Linked DNA regions of Homo sapiens: region 2 is linked to region 1. The links come from fine-mapping of genetic effects on gene expression. A gene starts in region 1. The other region holds a variant in brackets. All regions are shown on one strand. Distances are from middle to middle. Region 1 holds the start of PPFIA2 (PPFI scaffold protein A2). Region 2 overlaps PPFIA2 (PPFI scaffold protein A2).

Region 1 (5,392 bases):
TGCATGAAACCTACACATTGAGCCGCTATGTCATTCTGAGAAATGATTACCAGGAGCCAATATGTTTACTTTTGACATTTAAGGTTAAAACAAAGTACTGGGAGAGCAAATCATAGCATCATGACAATTTGTGCCCAAACACTCACAACGTTAGGGTTACCTATAGATTTAAATTCTTAAATCTATATTTTAAATTACGTCCTTCTTGAATGAAAGTTATTAATCCCTTTCCACCCTGAATCACTCAGAACAACTTTAAATTCCAAGGCAAAGCATAACAGCAGTGAATACCCCAATATAATTTTCACCTGAAAATAATATCCTAACAATCCCTCATTGTTACCATGGGATATAAACATTCACAAACTTTAGGGTCTTAAATCAACATTAAAGGTAGTCTTCGATTTAGTCAAAAGATGCTATGATGAAAAGTGGCTTAGGGACTTAGAAAGTCTATTAAATCTACACTCAAAAGAACTTGATTTGATTCCACTCCTAAGGCAGGTGAACCAGGACAAGTTACTTTACATGTTAAAACTTTAGTTCTCTCTTTCATGAAAGAGGGCCAATAATCTATGCTTAGAGGAAAAAAAAGAAAATATATAATAGGTTACCTGACTGAGAACACACAGCAAAACATATAAAGGGCAATTACAAATGTAAGTATTAATTTCTATTATAAAGTGATCAACATTAATCTTTGTAGAAACAATATTTTACCTTTACGACTCATTCTGCTGCTGTAAAGGTTTAATTCTAGTAGATACTTTTGAACTCTTCAAATCCAATTTATAAAAATCAAATTATGCAAAATTTACTTAGGAAATAAGATGAATATATGCTGCTTATACCTTGCAGTCAACCCAAATGAGTAAATCCAAAGTCTTCTTATCAAAATTAGAAAAAAATAGTCTACAAAAAAATAAGGCCACTTTCATGAACTAGCTTAGTTTCTTTCATTAGAATTCAGATTCTAACATAAATTACAAAATATTTGATTAATCCTTAAAATGCAGTATAACATTTCTTAAATGCACATTTTGCACATTTTAAGTATTAAAAGCAATTAAAGATATATATTCAATATAAGAGTTAAACACCCTTTTAAAAAATGGATGACATCTGAAGCAGCTTGCACAGTCCGGAAGGCTATGGTCATTCAATGTCTAGTGCGTTTCACCCAGATACATCACTTTTAACTTTTATAATCAGTATCAATACTAAAAACTGCATTCATCACATAATTTCTGAAAAGCCAGAAAGGGCATTTTAACAATTTGCCTTGATATTTGCTTTTTCATCATTCCCCCCTCAAAGTCAATTTGATATATAAATTATGTTATCTTCATCTAGATATTGATGCTTTCCTCATTAAATTACTGAAGGTTTTGAAACCTAGTCAGAGACATTGTTAATTTTGTTGAGAAAGAAAAAAAGTAATAATAAATCTGATTGGCTTAATTATCCCAGTGCTTAAATTTAGCCGGAAGAATTTTATATCAGGAAAATAACTCCTTTATTCTTAGCACATAGCCTTGACTGTCTTTTAAATTTCTCAGATTTCAAAATAAAAGTTTGAATGCCCACTGGAGTCCTCACTCAAGGGCTTTCAAGATCCAATGTGTTCCTTAACAATATATGCCATCCAAGCAGTACCTCTTCAGATATGAGAGTGCTACAAAAAGCTTTTTTTCTTTTTTCTGTCAACAAATGACTTTATTTAATCATATCACTAGGAATTCGGCCCTACTAGAGGTAAGAATGTAATTATTATCCATAGTGAGTTTCTTCTGAAAACATTTAGTCTTAAGAACCATCCCAGCTCCACCTCAGTTAACCTACAAGGAGTAATTCAGTGAGAGAAATCCTAGCCATTGTCTGATTACATTACATGAATATTCTCCCTCCTATTTAACTCTTTGAAAGCCTCTGTCCTCGGGAAATATGATTATCACCTTTAATGGACACATTTTACACTTTCTTTACCCTAGTGCATTTACGGACAGCCAGAGCCAGCTCAACCCACACTACTGGACAGTTATCTCTCAGCCACACCCCCCACCACCTTGAAGAAGTTGACTTCATCATTTCCACACTAAAATTGTTCATCCTGCCCAACAGGACACAGCCAAGTAGGCAGGAGGTAGAGAGATAGGAGATGGAGAGGATGAGGTGAAAGCAAAAGGCACCTAACGGTAATCAACAAGGAGGAATTTGCATCTCATCTTCCCTGGGGGCGGGGTGGGGCCGGGGAGGTGGTCAAAAAATACAGCGAAAGGAGACAGTAAAACTCAAAGACAGCTTCTGTACCTAATGTCTGTGATTTCGGGTCCTTGCTTCTTCAATTGATCAATGACAACCGCAGTCTCCGGCTTGAGGAGAAGGGAGGCTCACACCCAGCACTCCTGGACCATTTCCCTAGCAACGGGAGGAGAAAGGCAGCTCAGACACACGCGTGCCCCGGCGCCCTCCCGGAACGTGCCCCGGCCCGGTGGCGTGGCAGGAGCTCGGCATCTTCCCGTGGCTCCGTCAGCAGCCAAAAGGAGAAGCGTCCATCGGAAAAATGGCATATTACAAATTTTGCTTTGGGAAGCAAAGCTCGGTTCAGACCATTGTCAAAGGAGGAGAGGGGGAGGCGGCTCTTAAAGCAGCCGCGGCCCCTTTGCCAGAACAGCCGCAGCTCCCCGCGTGCAGCTGGAGCCCCGGGGCGGAGACCGGAGACCGGGGACTGGGTTTGACTTTCAGAAACTTAACCACGCGGCGCCGCTCCCCCTCCGCGCCCGGGCCACCCGGGGTGTGTGGGGCGTCCCTCCAAAAGAAAGCTTGGAGAAAAGGCGTGAGAAGTATCTGGGAGAGAAGTTCTCCACCCAGTCTCCCCTCCTGGAGCCCCTCTGGAGTTTAAGGCTAACCCTGGGAGTTAGAAACCTAAAGGAAAACGAGTCCCTAGGGATGCAAAAAGCAGGACAGGTCTCCTCCTGGCCCCCAGCCTGTTTCCGCGCGCTCCCGTGTCTCGTTTCACTTAAAGGAGGCGCTTTTTCTCTGGAAAGGCAAACATCACCCCACGCCGTCCCCCGGCCCCCCTTCCCTCCCCCCCGCCGCCCCCCCGCCGCCACAGCACACACACCCATTTTTCTCCTCCCGGCCTTTCTGCAAGCCTCTTTGCTTGCTTCAATTGGCCGGAAGAACCAACCTGCTGGCAGCCGGTGAGGACGCTACAGCATCTTCTCTCCTCACTTGCCTCGTGCGGTGGCTGCTACTCCTCCTCCTCCGTCTCCTCCCCTCCTCCTCCTTGGCAGCCACCACCTCCTCTTCCTCTGGAACAAGGGCTTCCCCTGGAAGCTGCTGCAGTGGTTTCCACCGGCCCTTAAATAAATTCTGAAGTAATCACGTCTTTGCTCTCCTCCTCACGCACACGCGCCCGCGGATACACTCGTCTCCCCCAGAGCCGCTCCCGGGCTGCCGAGGCTCGCTCTGCTCCCAGTGCCCCCTGCGAAGGCGAGGGCCAGGGATGGGCAAAGTGGGAAGGGGGCACACGCTTCCCCGCCTGGGCTTCTTTCACACAATGGGCTCTACAGCCTTCGCTTGTGTCAGCCTGCGCTGGTGGGGATGGGAACGGACTTGGGCACCTTTTGGCTCCCCGGTCTTCTGTGCTTGTCATTTCTTTAAGCAGCTTTCTTCCCACTGGGCCAGGGCATGGTAGTCATGGTTGTAGGGACCTGAGCCAATCTAGGGTGTGGCGGCATCTGTCATTTCTCATTACCTCTTCAGTTCTTCTTCATTCATATTGTTTTGGTAATGGGAATTGTATGTTAAGTATTCCCTGCCCGAGTAAATTTTAGCTTTGAGCAGAGTCTGGTCTCTCCATCGCGCTCCAGTCCCCCTTATATCTCCACCTCCCTTTACCTACCCTCTTTTCTTTCCGTTGCTGCTGTCCATTCATACAGACTGAGGAAGCAGGAGACAAAATCAGTACCTACTCTGAGCAGAAAGGGAACGTTTCTGTGAGGGAGAGTCACGAATCCTGCTGGGTTTGGTGAAAATGAAGAGGACATGCATGAAGGAATTGGAGGATTAAACACTGAATATATTTTGGGGGTTACTGAAAATATTCTGAGTGTGCTACACGAAAGCCAAAAGACGTGTTTTACTTTTGTGTAACGCCAAGAGTCCAAAGTTAACAAAGAACTAGTATGTAAATAACTGTTCACTTAAAATTAACTACAATATCCAAGAAACAATCTTTGTTTCTGAGGGAAGTATTTAATTCAGTTAGCGACTTTACAATGGAAAGTGGGGTAAAGCTCATGTATTTACCCAACTTCTATTCTAGACTGTTATTTAAATTTTACAACACAACACAATCCTATAAGAAGTATAAAAATAATACGAAAATTCATTAGATGTCAACTGGAGCACTATTTCTCAGACATAATGTGCATACAGATCATCCATGGATCTTGTTAAGTTGTAGATACTGATTCACCAGGAATGGGGTGAAACCTGAAATTCTACCCTTCTAATGACTCCCAGATGGTACTACACTTGAGGAGGAAGGGTCTAGACCACCCAATCGACCCACAATTTGATGTGGCTTAAATACCCCTAACTACAGGAAACTCTTCACCTCACAGGATAGCCTAGTCTATTTTCAGACAAACTTCATATTGTAATAGCTTCAACATACTAATCATATATCAGTACTCATAACTTTCACTCTCTAGAATTCTACACAAAACATAAAAATTCCTTATACATGAGAGATATTCTTATTTTTACATATAGCTATTATGTCTATTTTTACAAGAATTCCTTCCTTATTAAACCTTGGTTTGAATTTCCTTGGCAATCAACGTTTGTTAATTACTGGCTCAGATGTTCCTACTGTTTCCAAGAAGAGTTTTGATTTCCTTGAGTCCCATTCGTATGTCAAATACAAGTTTTAATTGTAAGTATAATCCCCACATACAGTTGACACAGCATAGTTAAAGGCTAACCCATGGTAGGTATCGCAGAAAGAAAAACTTTGATAATGGGAGGCAGAAAAAAATATCACGAGTTAAAGGATATTTTGTTAAGAAGATACAGTCTTCATAGTAAATTTCAGCTGAAAAACTTGACATTATCACTGCTAACTTCACTGCAAAGAGTGTAAATAATATATTAAAACTGAGAAAGACTGTTTAAAGTAGCAATTTTGCATGAGGCATTAGGTGAGCCGATTCACATGAGAAGAGTTACCACCTGCACCAGTTTCTCTAGTTTAGGCCCTTAAATTTAGCATACAAGAGACACTCCAGAAGGGCTTGTTACAACACAGATTGCTGGGCCCTATCCTTCGAGTTTCTGATTCATTACATCTGATTCATTACGTGCCTATTAAGTTCCCAGGTGG
Region 2 (5,392 bases), 25 kb before region 1:
TGGAGAGATTGAGATGGAAATGTAACTTTCCAGTGTTTTTTCCATTTCTGCACATAACAGTGTGAAATACCTGAATCTGAAGGTTTAGCACTTTTTTTGTAATTTCTCTTGGCTATGAATGTGGGTCTCATTTACTTTTCAAAAATAAAGATTTGAGACACAGGGAGGTTCAGTGGGTTAAGGTAACTTGAAACCCAAACTTCAAACATTGCGAGCAAATGCATTTTCTGTCTCAAGTTTCACAAAAGAGCCTTACTGTGCTTATATCTCACCATAAAAATCTAAACATTTGCTTTTAAAGACACTTCAGTTAATTAAAAATATATAAGGTTGAAATAGTATTAAAAGTGATATATCATTATATGAGTATATCAATTTAGAGTGCTGGTTAATGTGAGGGTTCAGAAAACAGACAACCTTGGGTAGAATTGGAACTCTGCCATATACTATCTTTGCAAACTAGAGAAGGTGAGTTAATCCCTCTATGTCAGTTTCCTTATCTGTAAAAGGGGAATAATAATAGTACCTCTAGTCATAGAATGGTGGTTCAGATTAAGTTTGTTATATATGTAAAGTCCTTAAAACTATGCCTGGAGTTCAGCAAGCTCTTAAACATGAGCTATCAATTCTGGTTCTGATTCTAGTCACTAAAGAGTCAGCAGTGCAGGGGTGGGTGGGGAGTTCTAAATAATTGTATTAAAGAAAGCATGATGAAAAGATGAAAGTTAATTCTTCAAGCCTATGTCACAGGATGATATGAGAAACACATGTGAATATAACATGGACTGTGACAATATATAAAGTAATTAGAAAATATCATATGTGTAAGGGCTCAGAAAATGTATCACCACTCAAATATCTTTCTTAAAATGCTTACTTAGAAATACATTCCTTCAGGCAAAGTGATGAAATCAAATGTAAAATATAAAAATGGACAAATGGTGACTACAAGAATGATAGAATCATTCAAATTGAACATATTAATAGCATTTAAATAATTGCTAATAGCTTAATTTCAAATCTGAATGCAACTTTAGACTGGATTTTGCAGTAAAAATACCGCATAAAAGTTTTTAATAATAAATAACACTTTATGTTAATACAAATTGGAAAGTCCAGTGTGGGGAAAAGAGCAAGGACAGAGAAGTATTCAATTCTTCCTCTTTATATGTTGGACCAGAAGATGGAATGATTACTTTCCTGATTATACCAAATAAAGAAATATGGATGATGTTTTTTTTTAAAAAAAAAAAAAAAACACTCACACACACAACAGGTTCCACTAGTTTAGTTACAAACAATGTGTATTTCTTACATATACTGCAGAAGAGAAAAGGCAACAAAACCCATTTCAACAGCCAAAGCAAAAAAGCAAAATAATATCAAGGAAGGAAAAAGAGGAAATAAAAAATTAATGACATAGATAATTGCTCATGATATGTTAAGTGAAAATGCAGTGTATAAAATTACATATAGTATGCTTCTAATTTTGAGAATAGCATCTTTCTCTTAGTGTAAAAGATGATAAAGACCATCGACCTAAATTGAACTTTAAGTAATTATAGATGCAGAAACTTGAATATTTTCTACAAAGCACACAAAAAAAGCAGTACAAGGAAACAACTTCCAAGAACAGACCCAAAATTAAACACAGTCAATATGTAATTCAAAGTAGAAAATCACCAAAATAGGTATTATAAACTGTGTTGAAAATTAACTTAGAGCAGACCAGTAAAAAGCAAACAACTTTCTTAGTTACGTCTGGCCTTGTATTTTTGATAAATTTATTACTGAAATATTTTATAAATTAATACAACAATCTTTTATTGTCTCTATATAGTAGAAATATATATATTATGGTTAAGTTTATGATGGTAAAGTACATAAAATTCCAGTTTTAAAGTGTGAGACATAGTTCTTAAGAATATCTCTCTTTTTAGGTTTTAGGTTAAATAACTTCTCCAGAAATATAAAGCAACTAGTACGCATCAAGTGTTTAATCCTTGTTCTTGACTTTCTTTGACTCTAAAATCTTAAATGCTTTAAGGAAGATTGCGTTTTAAAAGTACAATGGATGTAAATTTTCAGTTATGCAGTATGAATAAGTTCAAGAGATCTGCTGTACACCATTGAGCCTATAGTTAATACTGTATTGTGCACTTAAAATTTTGTTAAGAGGGTAGATCTCATGTTAAGTGTTCTTACCACAATAAAAAATAATAAAATAAAATGAGGGAATCTTAAATTTAAATCTTGTCTCTGACACTTACCAGTAATGTGAGAATAGGAAACATACTTTTCTGAGATTTTATCTATATATAAAATGGAATTAAAGAGATTGCTTTTACAACTCTTATGAAGATAAAACAAAATATTTAAAGAGGCAATGAATATATTGATCAACAGATGCTTCTTCCTATTCTACTACACTGAGTTCTTTGCTCTTATTCATTTTCTGTCATACTTCTATCATTGTCATATTTCTATCACATAGAAGTGTAAATATTGGTTTAATCATCAGTCACCTCAAATAAGCTAAGCATTCCTGAAAGGGAGAAGCATTTTTCATCATCTTTTTTTGTTTCTATAAGCCATCAGGATAAGCAACATTTTATCCTGTAACCTACATGTTACATTGCCACCAGGATAACCTACATGTCTATCTTTTGTATTCTCATAAACTAGATAACGTGCCTGCTACACACATATTTTATTTAAAACTTCTGATTTGAGGGCTGTGTCTTCTGAAAATGTGTAAGACCAATGAGCACAGGAATGCAGAAGATAATCAGCACCTGTCCCAGATAATCATGGTCTCATATTACCACTGTTTCCTATTTCAGGGTGCATATTGTGCCCAAATCTGAGAATGCTGTGGTGAAAGTGATAGGTGCTGTGGAGCTCACAGTTGGAGTTTGTCTCTAACCCCAGGTGAACCTCTTCAAACACCTAACAATTGTTGAGTCTAAATAAAGGCTCACACAGCACTGTGTTTGTAGTTTGGGAAGATATGCACATATAAGGAAAAAATCTCTTTGCTCTGAGAGATTACATTGCATTTGCAGAAAAAAAATGCATACAATCACACTAAGCAAGCCATCATTAATAACCAGTTTAGACTTGTATTTTAAGTTATGTGACAGAATAGAAGAATACAAAGGGGGAGAGAGGCAGATTAGAGGTCAGGCTTGAAGACATAATAAGAAGCTTAATCATTTATTTTCCAGATTAGCATTTTACAAATGTAATTCTATGAATTACCTAAGG[T/A]GATTGTTAAAAGTATAAAATCAAAATTTCCAGAGAAGATGTCATTGTCAACAAGCACTTTGAGCAATTCTCCTTTTCAGTCAAGCTTGTGAAAACTTCTCTAGGTGATTGGGAGCCATGGAAAGTTATTTTTTAACATCTTAATTGAAAAATAATTTACATATCACAAAATTCCTTTGTGTTTAGTGTAGAATGCTATGATTTTAATAAATGTATAGAGGTGTGTAATCATCACAACAATCCACTTTTAAGTCTCCCAAAAAGATCCCTACCCATTTGCTGTCACTTCCTATGCCCACCTCCAGCCGTAGGCAAACTTTAATCTCCTTTCCATCTTATAGCTCTGACTTTTCTGGGTATTTCATGAATAAGGAATCATGTAATATGTAATCTTTTATGATGGGCTTCCTTCATTTAGCATGATGATTTTTAAAGTTTCATTCTTGTTGTAGTGCTGATAGTTTGTTACTTATTGCTGAATAGCATTTCATTGCATGAATACACAATATTTTCTTTACCACCTGAGGGATATTTGTTATTATGAATAATGCTGCTATGAACATTTGTGAACAGGATATACATGAAAATATGTTTTCATTTCCCTTGGTTAGATTTCTAGGAGTAAATTTTTTTAATTAAATAAACTACTAGATTATTTTTATGGTAGTTGTACCATATTACATGCCAATTAGCAATGTATGAAAGTTCTTAATTCACCACAATGTCTCTAATTCTGGGTATTATCTTTTGATTATAAAAATTCTAGATGGTGTGAAATGTGGTTTTAATTTGAAATTCCTAATGACTACAGAGATTGAGCATATCTTCATCTGCTTATTGACATCTATTTACCATCACTGATGAAATGTCTATGCAAATTGTTTACCCATTTTTTAATTGGGTTTTCCTCTTCTTATTGACTTGTGAGAGTTCTTTATAAATTCAGAATATATGTCCTTTAACAGAGATATGTTTTGAAAGCATTTTCTCCTAGTTATCTTAGTATTTTTCATTTTCTTACTATTTTGAAGTATAAGTTTTTTTTATTTTGATGAAGTTCTATTTATAATTTTTTTTGTGGATTGTACTTTTAGTGCCATGTTTAAGAAATATTTGCCTAATCCAAGGTTTCAACAATGTTTTCCTATTATTTTCTTCTGCAGAGTGTATCGTTTTGCTCTTACATATTGGTCTATGGGCCACTTTGAGTCAATTTTTGTGTATGATGTTTGGTAAGGTTCTAAATTAGTCTTTGTGCATTTGAATAGCCAATCATCCTAGCCTAATTTGTTGAAAAGACTATCTTCTCCACATTGAATTGGTATAATTGTTGAAAATCAATTGACCATAAATCTACGGGGTTATTCTTGTACTCTCTATCATTATACTTGCTCTATATGTCTATCCTTAAACTAACCTGTTTACTGTCCTTTTAGAGTAAGTTTTGAAATCAGTAAATGTTAAATTCTCCAATTTTGTTAATGTTTTTCAAGATTGTTTTAATTATCCTTGGTCCTTTGTCTTTCTATATAAATATTAAAATCACCTCATCCCTTCCTGTATAAAAGGCTGCTGACATTTTAATAGAACTGTGTTGAATTTATAGACAAATTTGGGCATATATGACATCTTAATAATATTGAATATTTTAAAACATGAATGTCTCTACATTTGTTTAGATATTTTTACATTTCTCTTAAAGTCTTCACTATACAAGCCTTGCATGTATTTTGTTTAATTTACTCTTAAGTATTTCATTATTTTAGATGCTATTATAGATGGAGTTGTTTTAACTTCATTTTTGATCATTCTTCGATACTGTACCAAAGTACAATTTATTTATGTATGTTTATCTTTTATCCTGTGACCTTGCTGAATTGGTTTATTCATTCTGTTGGGTTTATTTGTGGACATAGACGCATTTTAATAAAGGCAGTAACACAGTCAGATTTTAATAAAGGCAGTAGCACAGTCAGATTTGTATTTTAAACAGATAACTCTGCAGCTGTGAAGGGGATGCATTTGAAGGAGGAAACGCCGGAGGAAGTAAGAGTTTTTCAACACCGTTGGGACAATTACTGACATCTAGAATACTCAAAGGAATATATAACAAGACTAGGAGTAC

The links. PIP is the estimated chance that this variant, and not a neighbour inherited with it, causes the effect.
Region 2: its variant is the best candidate, but not a certain one, in a credible set for the expression of PPFIA2 in lung (TOPMed, PIP 0.64).

Annotation. Positions count from the first base shown.
Region 1 is chr12:81,756,090-81,761,481 of GRCh38, forward strand. It overlaps PPFIA2 (PPFI scaffold protein A2), which reads right to left and starts at 3,261. Exons shown (of 33, transcript NM_003625.5): 1 at 3,191-3,261; 2 at 2,311-2,418. RefSeq lists an enhancer at 2,121-3,059.
Region 2 is chr12:81,731,272-81,736,663 of GRCh38, forward strand. The region is part of intron 3 of PPFIA2 (PPFI scaffold protein A2); the gene reads right to left. Among named protein-coding and RNA genes, the nearest start is that of PPFIA2, 25 kb to the right of the region's middle. The variant T/A (reference allele first, on the strand shown) is at 3,268.